Linked DNA regions of Homo sapiens: region 1 is linked to region 2. Evidence: fine-mapped expression QTL. A gene starts in region 2. The other region holds a variant in brackets. All regions are shown on one strand. Distances are from middle to middle.

Region 1 (5,388 bases), 86 kb before region 2:
GCTGAGGTGGACGGATTGCTCAAGCCCAGGAGTTTGAGACCGGCGTGGGCAACATGGCGAAACCCCTTATCTACAAAAAAAAAATTTTTTTAAGTTTGCCAGGTGTGATTATGCACTCCTGTAGTCTCAGCTACTTGGAGAGGCTGAGGTGGGAGGATTGATTGAGCCCAGGAGGTTGAGGATGTGAGCCATCAAGGCGCCACAGCACTCCAGCCTGAGCAATAGAGCGAGACTCTCCAAAAATAACTGGATAAATAAAATGAAACAAGAGAAAGCTGACTAATCCAAAGGGCAAGGTGGTTTACCTTAAAGAAACTCAAAAGAAAATGGAAATCTCTACATATATTGAAAAAGATTACAGGAAAATTTTCATCAATTGATGATGTACTGTTCACAAATACTGTAATTCTCCTGGAATATAGTAAATCATATTCCAGAGAGGAAATTTGGAGTAATTGAAATTGTGGGCGCAGGAATCAAGTACAGCAGATTAGCCACTTACTGGATTTGTAAATAGATTTACTTAACTTTGATTACTTCATTCCTAAATGAAGATAACTTTCTAACTTGCAGAATTAGAAGTGTTGTTTGTAAAGTATTTAACACAATGTCTAGAACAAAGTTGGTGATAAACACACAGTGATTATTACTACTCTGAATCAAAAGTGAAGGATTGCTAAACCTTGTAAGCAGTCACTGCAGCTTTTAGGCCTGGTTTTTCAGTGAAAAGATCAAAGAGTAGCCTTCTTTGTTCACCTAATGATAATTAAGGGTGAAAAATGTTGATGCATTTCCTGAAAGGTATGTCTCTTATTTAAAAGCGAATGAAAGTTTTAGATGGCTAGATGGCCTGTGAATAGGAATCTGCCCACAATGATCCTTTAAAACTATTGTGGCTGTTTAAGATAACTTATTTTTGAATTATTGTTTCCTGGACAATTGGCAACATAGATTCTAAATAGCTGACTTTGTACTCCTTTACAGATGCATGGTCATGGAGGCTATGATTCTGATTTTAGTGATGATGAACGCTGTGGAGAATCCAGCAAAAGGAAAAAAAGGTAAGTAATTTTTTTTTATTGATCTATTTTTCACATCCTTTCTAGATTAATATGAAGTATAAATAAACAAGAGTGAAATTTTTGAATTCTGTTTACATGTGAAGACAATTGCTCTAGTGAATGAATTTTTGTTCATTAAGCTAATACATTGATTAAAAATTGGAGAACAATTGTGGGAAAAATAAAAATTAATTCTGCAAAGGGGTTTATTGAAAGGGAAAGAAGAGTTTCAGATTTCTGGAATCTTTTCAGAAATCAGTGAAACCTTTTCATTACATATATTTTTCATTCAACTGTCAAGGACTGTTTATTTGTAAATGTTGTAGCTCAGAAGGGGCTTGAATGGTGGTCTCTTGCCATTACTTGCCTTCAAAGTGAAGTTAATATGGAGGATGAAAGTATAATGCAGCACAGTTCTTACGCATACGTGAATGAGCAGACTAAGGTCACGGGAAGAAACTCAAGGAAGGTTTTTTTGAATTGCAAGAGACAAAAACTCTTAGCACATAAAGCCTGTGCGTTATAAGCAGGATACGTCTTGGTGGAGCTGCTGTGCGTAGGAGCATTGTTCTTAGCTTTCAGTGCATAGAAACTCAGTTTTATACTTTGACTCAGGAGTGGTTGACTGATGTATACTAACCAAACTTACACGGCTGTTGACTGATTTTTTTAAGCAAATGTATAGAAATTGGCTTATTATTTCACACTGAGAGCAATATATTAGGCATACTAACAGGTTCTGAACATTTTTATAGGATACTCAGTCTCTGCAATAAAGGATAGTACTAATTATAATAAATTACATTTTTGATGCTTTACATTTTCTAGATTTTTCATTCAAAAATACTACTTTGTAAGAATAGAATTTGAGCAAATCTAGTTGGATACTCTGCTCCAGGATTATATTCATCACTATAACTAGGGCTGACAGTCTATGGCAGGGTGTCCAGTCTTTTGGCTTTCCTGGGCCACATCGGAAGAAGAATTGTCTTGGGCCACGTACTACAGTGGAGCACACACAATTGTGAATCTGTTGGTTCACATTGTTGGCCTGAAGCAGTGCTGGGCCTGCGTAAAATACACTAATGATAGCCAATGAGGTTTAAAAAAATGTGAAAAAGTGTCTTAATGTTTTAAGAAAGTTTACAAATTTGTGTTGGGCCACATTCAAAGCCATCCTGGGCCACATGAGGCCCATGGGTTGGGCGAGCTGGATCTGTGGTTTGTGTTCTCTATAATCAGCCTTGCTTTTTGTGTATCATTAATTACCAAAAACTTCCTTATCACTATGTTACAGATAGAGAAATGAAGAAACAAAGAGATAAATAATTGAATCTTATTAAGATTAAGGTAGTAATTGACAGAATTAGGATTTGAATCAGGAAGCTAGGTGATATGACACTAGAGTCCATGCTTTTGTTAGTTTCATCTTCCCCGTGTTATAGGTATTAAAATAATGTTAAGGTATTAATTAAGCTATTTAAGGAAATGTAAAATATCTCATTAAAGATCAGTGAGTCTTCTTAAAGTTAAGACTTACATTCTTTAAAGTATATTCCAGTTATGAAAATATAAAGAATTAGAAAATAACCTTTGAAAAAAGTGAACTCTTATTTTCTTCTTAATATATCAGGACAGTTGAAGATGACTTACTGCTCCAAAAACCATTTCAGAAAGAAAAACATGGAAAGGTGGCCCATAAACAAGTTGCAGCAGAATTGCTGGATAGGTATGGTATTTCAGTGTCAATTCTATTTCTTGGTTTAAGTTGCTTCGGATTAGGGGATTTGATTA[T/C]GTTAATTTGAATATAAACATTTTGAATTTTCTTAAAAAAATTTGTTTTAACAGGGAAGAAGCAAGAAATAGAAGGTTTCATCTCATAGCTATGGATGCTGTATCCTTTTTTTATTTCCAGATTTTTATAACTAGTAGAATATTTTAAAATCTGCTTTTTTGTTTTATAAAATCTTGTGAAGTCAAATAGGCTTTTTTATTTTTAAAGATAAGTATTTAGTGATGTAGGATTTTGCCATTTATACTTTTGGGTACAATTCTCTTTTACTAATATATAGGAAAGATTTAGAGACAAAAATAATAAAACATATTACTAGTACTCTATAAATAGGTTTATAAAGTACATGAATCTGCAAATATATTTTCCAAATTGTTTTTTCAAGCTTTCAACATTTCCTTTTCCTATACTTATCTTTAGTCTCATTTTAATTTATTCTCTTCCTACCTGGTTCTTTGCTATTTAAGGTCTCTATAAAACTTGTATTTAAAATTAGGTCTATCCAGTCTGTCCCTGGATCTAAGGAAAAAATAAAAATAAAATGAGGCCTGCCTGTGGACTGTCCTCAGGCCTGCCATGGCTTTAATTTTTAGGCATGACTTAAAGCTATCTTTAAGATAAACCCTGCTTCCTGGTTATAGCCATTTGTCAACTCAGTTTTTTAATAAGACTGGCTGATGACACTAACTGCTACGCTGGCCATCCATACTGCTGTTGAGAATATTGGAGAATTTAAGAGATACCAAGCAAAAACTGAAGTATTTTTGGGTATTTATTGCTGTGATCAGAATTGGGAGAAGGAGACAGTGTCAATTTGATACGCCCCCTACCTGTAATCATCTGTTTCACTGTGCTATTCCAATATTTTTCTTTTAAGTTATAGAAGTACCATTGTGTCACTAATTGATTTATTCTTCTTATCTCCTAACCCAATAGCTAGCTTTTCCATGGATCTCATCTGCCATTTGTTCCTTTAGCATTTAAACATTTGCTCTGCCTTCTCTGACACCTACTGCATTGGGGGCACCTAGTTATAGCCTGGTGAGAGTGAAAGTATGGGTACTCTTTTTTCTGGCATAGGAGGAGTTGGAGCCACAGTTTTTTTTGTTTGTTTGTTTTTTGTTTTGTGTGTGAGGATTTATTTTATTTTATTTTTCTTTATTTTATTTTATTACTTTAAATTCTGGGATACATGTGCAGAACGTGCAGGATTGTTACATAGGGTATACATGTACCATGGTGGTTTGCTGCACCTATCAACCCATCACCCTCACCCTTCCCCGCCCACCGGCTCCAGTGTGTGATGTTCCCCTCCCTGTGTCCATGTGTTCTCATTGTTCAGCTCCCATTTATGGGTGACAACATGTGGTGTTTGGTTTTCTGTTCCTGTGTTAGTTTGCTGAGGATGGTGGCTTCCAGCTTCATCCATGTCCCTGCAAAGGACATGATCTCATTCCTTTTTGTGGTTGCATAGTATTCCATGGTGTATATGTACCACATTTTCTTTATCTGGTCTATCATTGATGGACATTTGGATTGGTTCCATGTCTTTGCTATTGTGAATAGTGCTGCAATAAACATACATGTGCATGTATCTTTATAATAGAATGATTTATATTCCTTTTGGTATATACCCAGTAATGGGATTGCTGGATCAGATGTTATTTCTGGTTCTAGGTCCTTGAGGAATTGCCACATTGTCTTCAATAATGGTTGAACCATTTTACATTCCCACCAACAGTGTAAAAGTGTTCGTATTTCTCCACAGCCTTGCTAGCATCTGTTGTTTCCTGACTTTTTAATAATTGCGATTCTGACTGGGAACCACAGTTTTCTCTGGGTTGTTTGACAAGAGTAGAGTAGTTATTGTCTCAAAGTTGTCTTGCTAGGCTGACTCTTGGTCATTTGGTTAGAGAGAACAGCTTTTGTTGACGATTTTTTAGTCCGTGCCTGTTGGTGTTTCCGGGTTGTCACCTTCTTTACCTCCAATTCTAGGATACATGAGACAAAAAGAAAACCTAGGGAACTCGCTATCATGTCATACCATAGGTCTTCAGGAGGTCCCTAGCGGGGCGCCTTCTTCCTTCCACCTTTTAGAGTCTTTTTATGTTTGATATATAATGTATAAGGATTTTAGTTGTTATTAGTATGAGGAATAGGGAGAAGTACATCTTTGCCTACTCCATCTTCCCGGAAGCAAAAGTTACACCCACCACCTGTTCTTGTACATAAAATTATATTGGAATACAGCCATGCTTCATTTATATGTTGTCTTTGGCTGCTTTCATGCTAAAATGGCAGAACTGAGCATTTGCAACAGAGACCATATGGCTTGCAAAGCCTGAAATATTTACCATCTGGCCGTTTGCAGAAAATGTTTGCTGACCCCAGCTCTAATAGGTTACATGACTTGCCATGGTCATGTGACCAGTTAGTGGTAGATCAAGAGCTAGAATCCAGATCTCCAGGTATTTGGTTTTTCTGTCTCTCTCTTTTTTTTTTTTCCTGAAATATTAACTGGTTTGTTACAATATG
Region 2 (5,356 bases):
ACTAATGCCTGAATTCTAATCTTTGAGAGTCCGCTGTAACAATAAAGCCACCAATATGGTTTTGTGGATTGTGTTTATTTTTTGAGACAGGGTTTCATTCTGTCACCCAGGCTGGAGTGCAGTGTGTGAACACAGCTCACTGCAGCCTTGGCCTCCCAGACTCAGGCCATCCTCCCATCTCAACCTTCCAAGTAGCTGGGACTCCAGGCACACACCACCATGCCTGGCTTATTTTTGTATTTTTGGTAGAGACGGGGGTTTCCCATGTTGGCCAGCCTGGTCTCGAACTCCTGGGCTTAAGCCATCCACCCGCCGTGGCCTCCCAAAATGCTGGGATTACAGGCGTGAGCCACTGCACACAGCTTAATATGGTTTTAATGTACAGCCAGAGTTGGAATCCCCACTCTAGAGAGAAAAAAATGTGAAGAAGCAGTTGAAATGAAGAACCAATGAGGTCTCTTTCTCGTGAGCACAGAACCGTATCTGTCTTCAACACACATTTCTCTGTGTCCCACCCAGAACAGCCAGGAGTCCTCCAGAGAAGAGAGGAGAGACTCCCCACTCCCAGATGAAGTGCTCCGTCCATGCCGTGATGCTCACCATGGACAGCCGCAGACCAAAACCACCTCCAAGCAGCTCCATGCTCTTATTTCCTTCTCACCACAGAGAACTGGGCTAATCAAAGTATAACAGCAGAAATCATTTTACCCATCTCTTCTTTAAAAGCCTTTCAAAAAATTGCTGAATGTCACTTTTTCAAGTTTGATGTGCTAGCAGGGATGGGCTCAGTTGGGGACCCTCAAGGAGCGTATTCCCATGAGAAAAACCTCAGGATGTGCAGACATTGCCTTCCAGTTGGTTGTCTAGAGAACTTTGCCCTAAGGATGAGCATCCATTTAGACACTTGAAGCAGCTGCAGTCAGGCTCAAAAGCAAACTTAACCCAGCTTAAACTTACTGAAAGGAGGAATTATTCAGGACTGAAGCCCTACCAGGCCCCATGGTAACCCTTGCACCTGAGCGGTGTTCTGTGGTTGTTTGCAGAGAGTCACTCGTGTTTGATGACTTCCACACCTCTTGGGTCCGTGTGACCCTCCCCCTATAATCAGCTTCAGGAGGCATTTAGGAGATTATCCTCCTGCCTCTCCAGCTGCCCTATACACCCCTGCACAGAAAGCATTTCACAAGTTGTTCCCATTCAACTCTGTTCCATCATAATCCACTTTTCCCTTTTTGTTAATGGTAAACTGTAATAATGGACCACATGTGTAGAGAAGGAGCTGCCAGGAGAATCTCCAAGCTGGTACCCTTGATTATTGCTGAGGGGAGGGATGATGGGTGATTAGCATTTCCTCCTCTGGTTTATTTGTATCTTATAATTGTTTAAAAATGAACATGTACTCTAATGGTAAGAATAAAGTTTTTCTATTTCTATAAGGGGCATCTCAATGCCTTGTATTTGTGCAGTATGCTGTTGGTCTTCAAGAGGGTCCAAATGTCCCACTTACTTGATTGGAATTCATTCTTGAAAGATCTGGGTTATGGAGCAGTGGGAGTGGTCAATTGCACTTAACCATCACCTAAATTCACATATGTAATGAATTCCAAATTTGAACATCTGAACTTTCAAATGGCATCATTTTTTCTCTTTGCACATTTGGTCGATAGATGAAAGAATTGATTTACTAGCAAATCCATCCAAAAAACCTGAATGTTTTCGAAGGACTGTGAATGAGAGGCATGGGGAGCAGTTCACAAGTCTTGGCATCTGGGCACGTTGGCCCATCTCCCTAGTGGGGTAGTTTGTTTTGCTGGTGTTGCTGAGAAGGAAAGTCCCCCAGAGCACTGGAGGAGGCGTAAGGGAGGGTGTGTGGAATGCACCAGGGCCAGGTAGGATCACCTGATAAAATGCCAAACTTTACATGGGACATACTTATACTTCAGAAAATAATAATTCATTGTTTATCTGAAATTCAAGTTCAACTGGGCAACTTGAAATTTCATTTGCTAAATTTGGCAACACTAGGCCTGGGTGATCCTCTTCCCTGCCACCCACATTCCCCCGGTTATTGCCAAACTAATGCCACAAGGATAGCACTATCTCTCTTTCCCATTTGTTCCTCCCTGACCCTGCCAAGACCTCTGCCCCACTGTCATAAGGCCACCTACCTTTTTCACATCTGGGACATTATGAGTTTTCTTCGTGTGAGCAGCCCAACCCACTATCCCAATGTCCAATGGAAACACAACTTCTTTGTCAGGGCCCACCAGGTTGTCCTCAAACTTGGAGGTGGGGGTGACATCCAGCAACCTAGAGGCCACCTCAGGTATGCCGTTCCGGGACCGGCACAGGAACATGCTGCAGCGGTCAGCCTGGAGCAGGTGGGCCAGCCTCTGCAGGGCCCTGTGAACCCCCTGCTCTGGGGTGCCCCCCTCCTCCTGCACGGTCCACAGCAGCTCCAAGCACAGGGCTGACTCCTCCACCTGGGTCAGCTCAGAGAAGGACATGCTGGACTGGACTGGCACCTGGCTGTTCTTGAAGATTTCTCCCAGCACCTCCACCCGCAACTTCCTGTCAAAGTACTCCTTGGCAAACTGAGGGTTCTCCTCCAGGTATTTCTCCACGGCAACTTGGTTGATCTCACCCATGGTGTGGCTTGCTTTGCTGCGTTTGTTCAGAAAGGACGACCTTCAGAGCACTACCTGAGGCAGAGTGATGAGAAGGAAATTCATCCTGGTGGAAATTACTGAGGAAACCGTAAATGGTCCCTCATAGGACTTCCAAAGGTCAAGCAGAAAGCAGAGCTTTCAAACTGCCTGTAACTCTTGGGATGTGACAGAAGGCCCTGGCTTAGGGTGGGATTCAGGAAGCACAGGATTAAAGAGTTCTTCAGGACACTAAATCCCTGAGCATTAGTAGCTCATAAGTCCCTAGCGAATCTTCAGAGTATCTTAGATCAGCCCAGCAAGTAGCAAGCTGAGGTGTCTATTCCAGAAAAATAACTGAATGTCGGCTGCTGTCCACAGCAAGGAAGAATCACTGACATATCCATGAATGACACGACATTGGCAACAATTGGCACTTTGAATCGTTCTTGTATGATAGCTATAGGAAGTAAAACTATTTAGACCTCGGAAGTGCTTGGATTTTTTTTGTTTATATAGCAACTGTAATGAACATCTGGGAGATATGGAACAGTTTGCATCACTGCAACATAAAGGTGAATATTAATCTTTCCTTTTCTTAAAAGTCTTTTGATCACCAAGGTTGCTTGGCCTCCTCTTTCTCTAGAACCTTCACCTCTCAATCCCTGTCACTTCAGAAAGCTTGACCTCAGAAGTGTTTTAAAGGAGTAAACCTCAAGCTTATTACTAAAGAGGTGAACATAGCAAAATATTTGCCAATGATCCAAACCTAATCAAGTCATGAATTGAATAATAACCCTTGTCGAGAGACTGTAATTACAAAAGGTAACCTACATAGTTGCTGGCTGGGTTTTTCTGCTAAGTATCTTAGTTAGGATTTTGTTTTCAATAGTAATAGCCAGAGGTCATGCGATTTTGCTACAACATACAGTCTACTAAATCTACTAGATGATAGATATCTTGTCTGTTGCTAGGATCCTTAACGTCTCAGGGGCTACTGGCATAGAAAGAACACTTACCACTACTTAGTTTTGTTTAATGTTCACTTTACTAAGCTTTTACATCTATTAAACACATTTCCTCAAATATTTAAACACTATTATGCAACTAATAATTCAAACTATTAATTCATGAACCAATTGCCTTCGATACTTAAATGTTGGTTTCAAACTTAGTCAAGGTGTTTTAAACACTTCAATAAAGCTACAAACCTAATATGACAAATTCTCTTAAGTGGAAAACACACACATGTTACAGTGACTCTAAAAATTATTGTTACACCCACATTTAAGTTTGCTTCAAAAATAGAAACCCTATGAGTTTCATTGAGTTCTCTAAGATTTACCTCTCTAGATAGTAATCTTTTTCTTTTTTTTTTTTTTTTTTTTTGAGACTGAGTCTCGCTCTATTGCCAGGCTGGAGTGCAGTGGTGCGATCTCAGCTCACTGCAACCTCCGTCTCCTAGGTTCAAGTGATTCTCCTGCCTCAGCCTCCCGAGTAGCTGGGACTACAGGTGGGTGCCACCACGCCCAGCTAATTTTTGTATTTTTGGTAGAGATGGGGTTTCACCATGTTGGCCAGGCTAGTCTTGAACTCCCAACCTCAGGTGATCCACCTGTGTCAGCCTGAGAGATAGTAATCTTAATAGTCACAAAAGAAAGAGAGATCCGTTGAGGTTGCACATTCCCTGTCATGAATTGAGAGATTCTTGGTGGGAAACATGGTTTTCCCAGGGGTACAGAAAGAGTCATTTGTTGAGTTATGCCACTTCTTGTGATTGAGCTTCACCTGCTACCTCAAAGCACCTTGTCAGGTGCACATATTTTCTTGGACTGTCCTATGTCACACTCAACTCTACTCTCAGGAGGTTCCTCTTTGGGTGACTATTTACTTCATAACACCCTGTTATTATAAATAGGATAATGCAGAAGTGTATTTCCCAGGAGAGAGTTGAGTCAACTGAGTCACCCCTCCTATGGGACCATCTTCCTTATCTAACAATTTTGGACACTCTTTTTTACCTAGTTATTTTGTGTGACTCATGGTACAGTTCCTACTTCTCCTGTAAGTATGTGGTGTGCTCACGATTTCCTGGTTTCATCCTTCCCTCTTGAAACAGAGAGGGAAAAACACATATTTGCATTTCATATACAGACTTATACTTAATAGAAAAAGAAAAAACAAAATGCCCATATATGTTCAACTTTCATAATCTTTTTTTTTTTTTTTTTGAGACAGAGTCTTGCTCTATTGCCCAGGCTAGAGTGCAGTGGTGCGATCTCGGCTCACTGCAACCTCTGCCTCCTGGGTTCATGCCATTCTCCTGCCTCAGCCTCCCGAGTAGCTGGGACTACAGGCTCCTGCCACCATGCCCGGCTAATTTTTTGTATTTTTAGTAGAGACGGGGTTTCACTGTGTTAGCCAGGATGATCTTGATCTCCTGACCTCGTGATCCACCCGCCTCGGCCTCCCAAAGTGCTGGGATTACAGGTATGAGCCACCGTGCCCGGCCCATCTTTCATAATCTTATAAAAGTGAATATTAATTTGAAAAAGAAACATCCTATTATAGTCAGCATTCTTTTGTTTTTATAACTAGTTAGAGATTCATTCATTTGTTCATTCTTTCTTTCTTTTTTGTTTTTTTGAGATGGAGTCTCCCTCTATTGCCCAGGCGCGATCTTGGCTTACTGCAACCTCCGCCTCCCGGGT

Alleles and levels. Alleles are on the strand shown, and positions count from the first base shown. SD is a standard deviation of normalised expression in the study named.
As copies of C replace T in region 1, the expression in breast of the gene that starts at base 2,837 in region 2 goes up (small effect, 0.36 SD a copy in GTEx).

The links.
Region 1: its variant is fine-mapped to the expression of PDE6C in breast (GTEx, PIP 0.94).

What each region holds. Positions count from the first base shown.
Region 1 is chr10:93,695,703-93,701,090 of GRCh38, reverse strand. It overlaps FRA10AC1 (FRA10A associated CGG repeat 1), which reads left to right. Exons shown (of 14, transcript NM_145246.5): 2 at 985-1,061; 3 at 2,695-2,790; 4 at 2,910-2,955. The coding sequence starts at 985. Among named protein-coding and RNA genes, the nearest start is that of FRA10AC1, 4.2 kb to the left of the region's middle. The variant T/C (reference allele first, on the strand shown) is at 2,856.
Region 2 is chr10:93,610,018-93,615,373 of GRCh38, reverse strand. It overlaps PDE6C (phosphodiesterase 6C), which reads right to left and starts at 2,837. Exons shown (of 22, transcript NM_006204.4): 1 at 2,169-2,837. The coding sequence starts at 2,648.